Homo sapiens: one gene and its partner. The protein of the gene in region 2 purifies or fractionates together with the protein of the main gene of each other region. This does not show direct contact. Each region holds a gene or a part of one and is shown on either strand. Other genes may lie near its edges. The genes, in order: HEMGN and ZNF25.

Evidence for each region.
Region 1: the proteins of ZNF25 (region 2) and HEMGN purify together in Homo sapiens (co-immunoprecipitation; one study listed by IntAct). This does not show direct contact.

The regions. Positions count from the first base shown.
Region 1 is NC_000009.12:97,927,890-97,931,718, forward strand, and holds part of HEMGN (hemogen), read right to left. Parts: intron 3,333-3,829; coding exon 2,146-3,332; intron 1-2,145. UniProt on the Homo sapiens protein: Regulates the proliferation and differentiation of hematopoietic cells. Overexpression block the TPA-induced megakaryocytic differentiation in the K562 cell model. May also prevent cell apoptosis through the activation of the nuclear factor-kappa B (NF-kB).
Region 2 is NC_000010.11:37,952,392-37,956,220, forward strand, and holds part of ZNF25 (zinc finger protein 25), read right to left. Parts: intron 1,368-3,829; coding exon 1,304-1,367; intron 805-1,303; coding exon 1-804. UniProt on the Homo sapiens protein: May be involved in transcriptional regulation.

The DNA of each region.
Region 1 (3,829 bases), on a different chromosome or scaffold from region 2:
CTTAAAAAATTATATTTATAATAATCCTGAAAAGATGTCTAGTAACATTAATTATAAAAGGGGGTGATTAAGACCATTAGGTGTGTTTTATTTTTTAACCTATCACTTCTCAGCCTTTTGGCTAAGATCAAGTGTATTTTTTTTTTTTTTTTTTTGAGCCGGAGTCTCGCTCTGTCGCCCAGGCTGGAGTGCAGTGGCGCGATCTCTGCTCACTGCAAGCTCCGCCTCCCGGGTTCACGCCATTCTCCTGCTTCAGCCTCCCGAGTAGCTGGGACTACAGGCGCCCGCCACCGCGCCCGGCTAATTTTTTGTAATTTTAGTAGAGACGGGGTTTCATCGTGTTAGCCAGAATGGTCTCGATCTCCTGACCTCGTGATCCGCCCACCTCGGCCTCCCAACGTGCTGGGATTACAGGCGTGAGCCACCGCGCCCGGCCGATCAAGTGTATTTTTTAACCTAGCAGACAGACAAGGATTTTTAAAATGTCATAATGTACAGTGCTGACAAGGGTGTGGGGAAAAGGCACCTGTCTCGTGTGAATTGCTACCACATTTCTGGAGGCTAGTCTGACTGACTGTATATTCAAACTTTAAATTTGGGTACCGTTTGGCCCAACAATTTGATTTCTAGGGGTTGATTCAAAGGAAATAATCAGACAAACTTCAGCCTCCAGTGCCTCCATTTCCTTATATTTAGAATGGGAGTATTATTTATCCAGTAGAGCTTTTAACATTGAATAAAATAAACCACATAAAATATTTAATATGGTGTCTGGCACATAGAAAAGTACCAGATAAATGTTAACTAAATAAATGTTATTCCCAATGATGTTCATTGAACATTGTTGTAATAGTAAAACTTGGCAGTAACCTAAGTGTTCATCCTTATAGAGACTGGTTGAATATACATATAGCACAGTACTATGCAGTTGTTACAAAAGACATCATAAAGATGGCTGCAATACATATTGTAAATGAAAACAAAAACAAGTTACAGGATAGGATGGGTACTGTCTCATTTGTTGAAACAAAACAACCTTAACATTGGGAACTGAAGATAGAAGATGGTATTATAGGGGACTTTTACTTTACTTGATATTCACTTACATATTGCTTTATTATAATGAACACTTACTACTTTTATAATCAGGAAAAATAGATATTCCCATTTATTTGGTCAAACAAAGCCAAAAATAAAATAAGCGTTAATTAATTGACCATATCGACCTTGCTGGGTTTAGAATGAAGCAGTTAGGAATCAGGACGCTGTGTTGGTTAGAGCTGCTTCTCCAGCAGGGTACTCCTGTCAGTGCACGTACTGCTTCACATGCCTGCTTTTGCTGCAATGTATTTCTTTAAAGTAGTTCTTCAAAACTGGTATTACTTGGAAACCAACTAGCACCATGTTTTTGTTGCACTCATCTTTTAGGATAAAGAGCAAGTAAACTACTAAAGGGATTTCTTTAGAAATCAGTTTCCTGGGGATAACTATGGTCTGATAGACTCAGTCCATTTCTTATACTGTCTACAGTATTGTACAAAGAGAGCTGAAGTTCTCAGTTATGTCTCTGAGGCAAGTGAAATTAAAGAAAGGTTGCATTATTTTCAAATTCCTATACTTAGGAAAAAGTTTTTCAGGAACAAATCTTGAAATAGAAAGGGTTTTTGGTAAACCTGATAAATCCTACAAGAATGAATTCCCTAGTAACAGGATTATATTTTACAGCTTTTATCTCCCTCAGTACTTCGTACTATGAATTTACCTGCTTTCCATTTATCAGGCAAATTAAATTTCCTAGAAAAACTTCATTCATCAAGCTTTCTTGTTAATGTAGACTTAATTTTTAAAAATATTTTGCAATAATTCATCCTATATTGGGTTCATTTCACTGACTATAGCATCTCATAATGGATGGATAGTATGAATAAGTACTTAATGTACATGCTTGCATTTTCAATTTTTTTAACTCTTTGAAATATGCCAAGACAGACGTTGGTTGCATGAAAATATTGTTCACTTAAAACTAGTCAATGAAATTCACAGTATCCATTGAAATAACAGGGAATACCCAGGATTGTCAGAGAAAGTTGTAAATCACTACTCTGGGGGAGATGTACCTACCTTGGTGCTATAAACAGCCCTTACCTTGAGGAAAAGTATAAGCATCTTTAGCATCTTCCTGGTGTGCTTTAGGATCCTGGCCTTGGGGCCCACCTGTTTCTTGGTGTGGTTCTGGAAAGCATTCTTTAGGCACATCCTTATTTTTATATGTCTCAGTAGAGAGGTCTTCAGGCCCCGGTGTTTCTTGGTATATTTCAGGTGAATATTCTTCAAGCTGGGATGTTTCTTGGTATATTTCAGGTGAATATTCTTCAAGCCCAGGTATTTCTTGATACGTTTCAGGTGAATATTTTTCAGACCCAGGAGTTTCTTGGTTTATTTCAATTGAATAGTCTTCAGAATGAGGTGTTTCTTGGATTGTTTTATGAGAGGGGGCTTTAGGCACAATAATTTCGTTACATGTTTTATGAGGAAGGTATTTAGGTTCAGCTGATTCTTGGTGTGTTTTTGTAGAAAGGTCTTTAGGCTCAGCTATTTCTTGTATTTTAGGAAAAAGGCCTTCTGTCTCAGCTATTCCTTGATCTGTTTCATTGTATTCCTCTGGTTCTGCTGGATTTTGGTCTGTGTCAAGAATATAGCCTTTAGGCACATCTGGTTTTGGATATGCTTGAAGAGAGCATCCTGCCAGATCAGCTGTGTCTTCAGATGTTGGACAAGGAAGGATTTTGGGTACAGCAGCTTCTTGGCACATTTTAGGAGCCAGATCTTCTCGTTTAGCCATATCTTGGTACATTTTGAAAGGATGGTCTTGAATTACAGATATTACTTGGCATGTGTTAGGAGAGTTGTCTTCAGGTTCCTTCATGTCTTGGCATATTTTGGAAGAATTGTCTTGAAGTACAGATATTTCTTGGTACATTTTAGGAGAGAGGTCTTCAGGTTCAGACACATGTTGGCATGTTTCAGAAGAATGGTTTTGTACTGCTATTTCTTGGTACTCAGAAAAATTCTCCTGATATATGTTACTTTCTTGACATATTTCAGAAAAGTGTTCCTCAGGCACAACTTTTTGCGGGGAGGCTACTGAAGGAAATACTTTGGTTATGCTCCCAGGTGGCTCAGTTTTTTTCTCTATAGGTGCCAGTGCTTTCTCCACTATTTCCTTTTCTATCTGTGGCTGAGGCTCCACCTTCAATTCTGTGTTTTGTTGTCTCTTTCTGCCTCTTCGATTTCCTTTTCCTGTTCTCTGCTGCTTGCGTTTTTTCTGTTCTCTGCAGAAAGAACAGAATTAGTGTCAGCAGTGGTACTACAGAATTCAAATAAATGCTTGTAATAACAGTGCCAGGTCCCCCACTGCCTCATTGCACAAGTATCATGAACTAGTCACTTAATCTCTCTGGGCCTCAATCTCCTTGTTTGTAAAATGAAGGAGCAGCTCTAGATGTTCTCAATTCTTAGGAGAGGGAATGTTTCTCCAGGACTTCGTGGCATTGATACCATGCTTACCAGGAGCCTTCTTGGTGAGGGTAGTGCATGCGCGTATGCGTGCGTGCGTGTGTTATAGCATATTCTTAAAGTTTTGTTATGGAAAATAAATAATTCTCATTACAAATTAATAGAGTGGCATTCTGGTTTATACACTAGTCTCTTTGCATTTAGTCTTTGTGTGTTACTTCCCTACCCCTGAGTAAACTCATACAAATCGAGTTTCTAGACCTGGCACAGCTCCTCGTCTGTGCAGCCTGCAGGTGGATGCTGTATATGGCTT
Region 2 (3,829 bases):
GGCTTCTCCCCTGTGTGTTTTCTCTGATGTTTAGTGAGGTCTGATTTATAGTAAAATGTTTTCCCACATTTATTACATTCAAAGGGTTTCTCCCCTGTGTGAGTTCGCTGATGTACTGTGAGGGCTGACTTCTGGTAGAAGCATTTCCTACATTCCTTACATTCATAGGGTTTCTCTCCTGTGTGACTTCTCTGATGAGTTTTGAGGTGTGAATTCCTAGAGAAGAATTTCCCACATTCCTTACATTTATAGGGTTTCTCCCCTGTGTGCATTCTCTGATGTACTGTGAGGTGTGACTTCTGGGAAAAGGCTTTCCCACACTCCTTACACTCATAGGGTTTCTCCCCTGTGTGTGTTTTCTGATGTACCATGAGGTATGCCTTCACATAGAAGAACTTCCCACATTCAGTACATTCAAAAGGTTTCTCCCCTGTGTGTGTTTTCTGATGTTCTGTGAGATGTGGTTTCTGGTAGAAGGATTTTTCACACTGATTACATTCATAGGGTTTCTCTCCTGCATGGGTTCTCAGATGTCTACTGAGAGATGATAGGTGGTAAAATATTTTCTTACATTCTTTACACTCATAGGTTTTATCTCTCGTGTGAATTTTCTGATGTCTTATGAGGTCTTCATTTTTAGAGAAAGATTTCCCACATTTATCACAGTCATAGGATTTGCCCTTTGAGTGAGTATGCTGATGTACTATGAGGGCAGACTTCTGGCAGAAGAACTTCCCACATTCCTTACATTCACAGGCTTTCTCTGTGGTATGAGTTTTCTGATGTTTTGTGAGTTCTCCATTCCTAGACAGAAAGTTCCACATTCATTAATGTGTAAGACTTTTAAGGCTTTTTGTTCCCCCTGCTCCACTGGGCGTATTTTCCAAGTACCTCTGAGGACCGATTTCTAGAGATGTTCCCATATTTACTGGATCCATAGGGTTTCTCCACTGTGAGCATTCTCTGACCTGCACTGTAGTTTAACATTTGGTAAGGTGAATCTGCATTTGCATTCTATTCACAGGGTCTCTCAATTGCCTGCATTCTATTTTGTGTAATAGAGACTCCCTTTCATTACTTAATTCAGAAGAGTAAAAAGACCACTTCAAAGTTTCAATCTCCCGATCCTGCACAAGGTCTCTATGAAAAGGGGCAGTCCCATTTGGATTATATTCCTTGGGATTTGCTCTGCAGTGTTAGTTTTCTCACGTTTAGTATTAACTAGTGCCCTCCCATTTCTAGTAACTCCTTTAAGACTCTTGCTTACAAATCTTCTATCTTAAACATTAATTCTTGAACTTGCCTTGAATTTCCAGCTTGGCTTTCCTGGTATCTTGCTTCTAGATCATGAATGCTCCATAGGTCTTCTACAAGGGAACCAAAAATGTAATACTTTATAAATACTACACATTAATATTGTCATAGCATTGATTCTTAGGCTTCAGGCCAATTTCTCATAATGAAAGAACCTCAAATGCAAATTTCCTCTAGCCCATTGTTTTGGGAAAAAAACCTAAAACAAACACTGAAAACTGCTGTCACACACAGAAGGAGGATTCTACTTGTAGACCCATGTACTCTGACATTTTTACAAATGTGACCATAAGAGTTTGGAGGTGAAAGTTAAAGACAAAAAAAGAACCGGGAGAGGAGAACATAGGACATTCGAAGTGTTGCTGAACGGGAGTGTGGGAAGTATAGAGAATACTGTGAGCCCCTTAAGGACCATGAACAGTAAGCAAGTTAAGAAAAACTACTGGACAACAGTGTCCCCTGGAATACATGGAAAAGATTAAACTGAAAGAAGGAGCTGAAGTATAGGTCTTTATTCCCTCAAACCTAGATTACTGTGCTAGGATTCCTAGCATTTAGCAGACAAACTTCTACTTTATTTCCTCTTCATCCATCCACAGCAATCTAGGTGTCAATTACTAAAGTGACTTTTTCAGAACATCAGTTTCCTCATGCTTAGAGGAAGAGTCCTGTAGCTTGGGCTTTCACTCTCCATCTAGTTGGCTTTATTTTCAGGACAGGAAGACAGAGGACCACATATATCCAAAAGGAAGGATTTTCTTAAAAGCATTGGGATAAGCCATCTATACAAGGATGAATTCCTAGTTGTACCACCAGAGATTTTCAATCCTGAACTCATCCTGACCATCAAATCCTGCACTTCTAACGCACTTGTTACTCATGACTCAACACTAGTCTTGAATTTCATTTTCATATCTTGCTTCCTCCATCTCTGCTTCCAATTTACTACAGGATCTTTAAAGGTCCAATTATTGAACATCATTCTAGAATCTTTAGTGACCTTCATATTTATGCATCTTTAAATGCATGAAAGCAAGTGAAAGATTATCAGCAGATGCTTGGGGTTGGAATTTCATAGCAATGGTGGGGAATACATAAGAAAAGTCACTTCATAGTGACTTATGCGACGTTAACTCAGGAACACATGAAATAAGATCATATGTATAAGCCAGGAACGGTGGCTCATGCCTGTAATCCCGGCACTTTGAGAGGCTGAGGTGGGTGGATCACCTGAGGTCAGGAGTTCGAGACCAGCCTGACCAACATGGTGAAACCCCACCTCTACTAAAAATACAAAAATTAGCTGGATCTGGTTGTGGGCACCTGTAATCCCAGCTACTCAAGAGGCTGAGGCAGGAGAATCACTTGAACTCAGGAGGTGGAGGTTGCAGTGAGCTGAGATCGCACCACTGCATGCCAGCCTGCGCAACAGAGTGAGACTCCATATAAAAAAAAAAAAAATCTTATGTTTGGAAAACATTTAAGAGCATAGTAAAATGGAGATTAACAGGTGTTTGGGGGCCACAAGGAGAAATAAGTTGCATAGGCAAGAGAGGGCCAGACTAGTTCCTGACAAAAAATTCATTTAAATGAATATTACTAATACCTCCTTACCCTTGTAAGACTTTTATTTTGTCTAAAGGACTTAATACTGAGTCAGTATTAAGTATACCATGCAGGCTTCTGGCAATGTACATCTGCTGCATTACACAACTACTGTGGGAATTTAAATCAACAATTTTTGTTTTGACCCTAACAAGGAAGGAAGTAGAATAAGCAGAACTATCTTACAAGAAGGTAAAAATATGGGATCAGAATATAAATAGGGCAAAGATGCTGGAGAGGTCAATTTTAGGAATCCTTATCATAAAAACCAATGCATTGGCTTTAAGAATGGATGAGCTTCTACAGGAGTTAATAAAAGGAACAGAGCAGAAAGTAGAAAGTGTCTGTTGTTAATTATTTTATATATTTATTATTTCTTTTTTTCATGAACATGAGTCTCACTGTTGTCCAGGCTGGAGTGCAGTGGGGCGATCTTGGCTCACTGTAACCACTGCTTCCTGGGTTTAAGCAATTCTCATGCCTAAGCCTCAGCCTCCCGAATAGCTGGGACTACAGGTGTGCACCACCAAGCCCGGCTAATTTTTGTATTTTTAGTAGAGACAGGGTTTCACCATGTTGGCCAGGCTGGTCTCGAACTCGGGCCTCAAGTGATCCACCCACTTTGGCCTCCCAAAGTGCTGGGATTACAGGCATGAGCCGCCACTCCCAGCCAGTCTCTTGTTAATTAATATTCATTCTTTCAACAAATATCTAGCGAGCAACTAATATGTACTAGGCATTGTTCCTGATACTGGCAACACATCTGTGCACAAGTTAGAAAATACGTGACAAACATTTAAGAAGGCAGGATGAGATTGTCTTAGTGTTATCCAAATAAGTTTAGGGAGGATAAGCAGTGCTTTGTGGGAAGGATAAACACTGTATAGCAGGAAGTAGCAACTCCAAAATG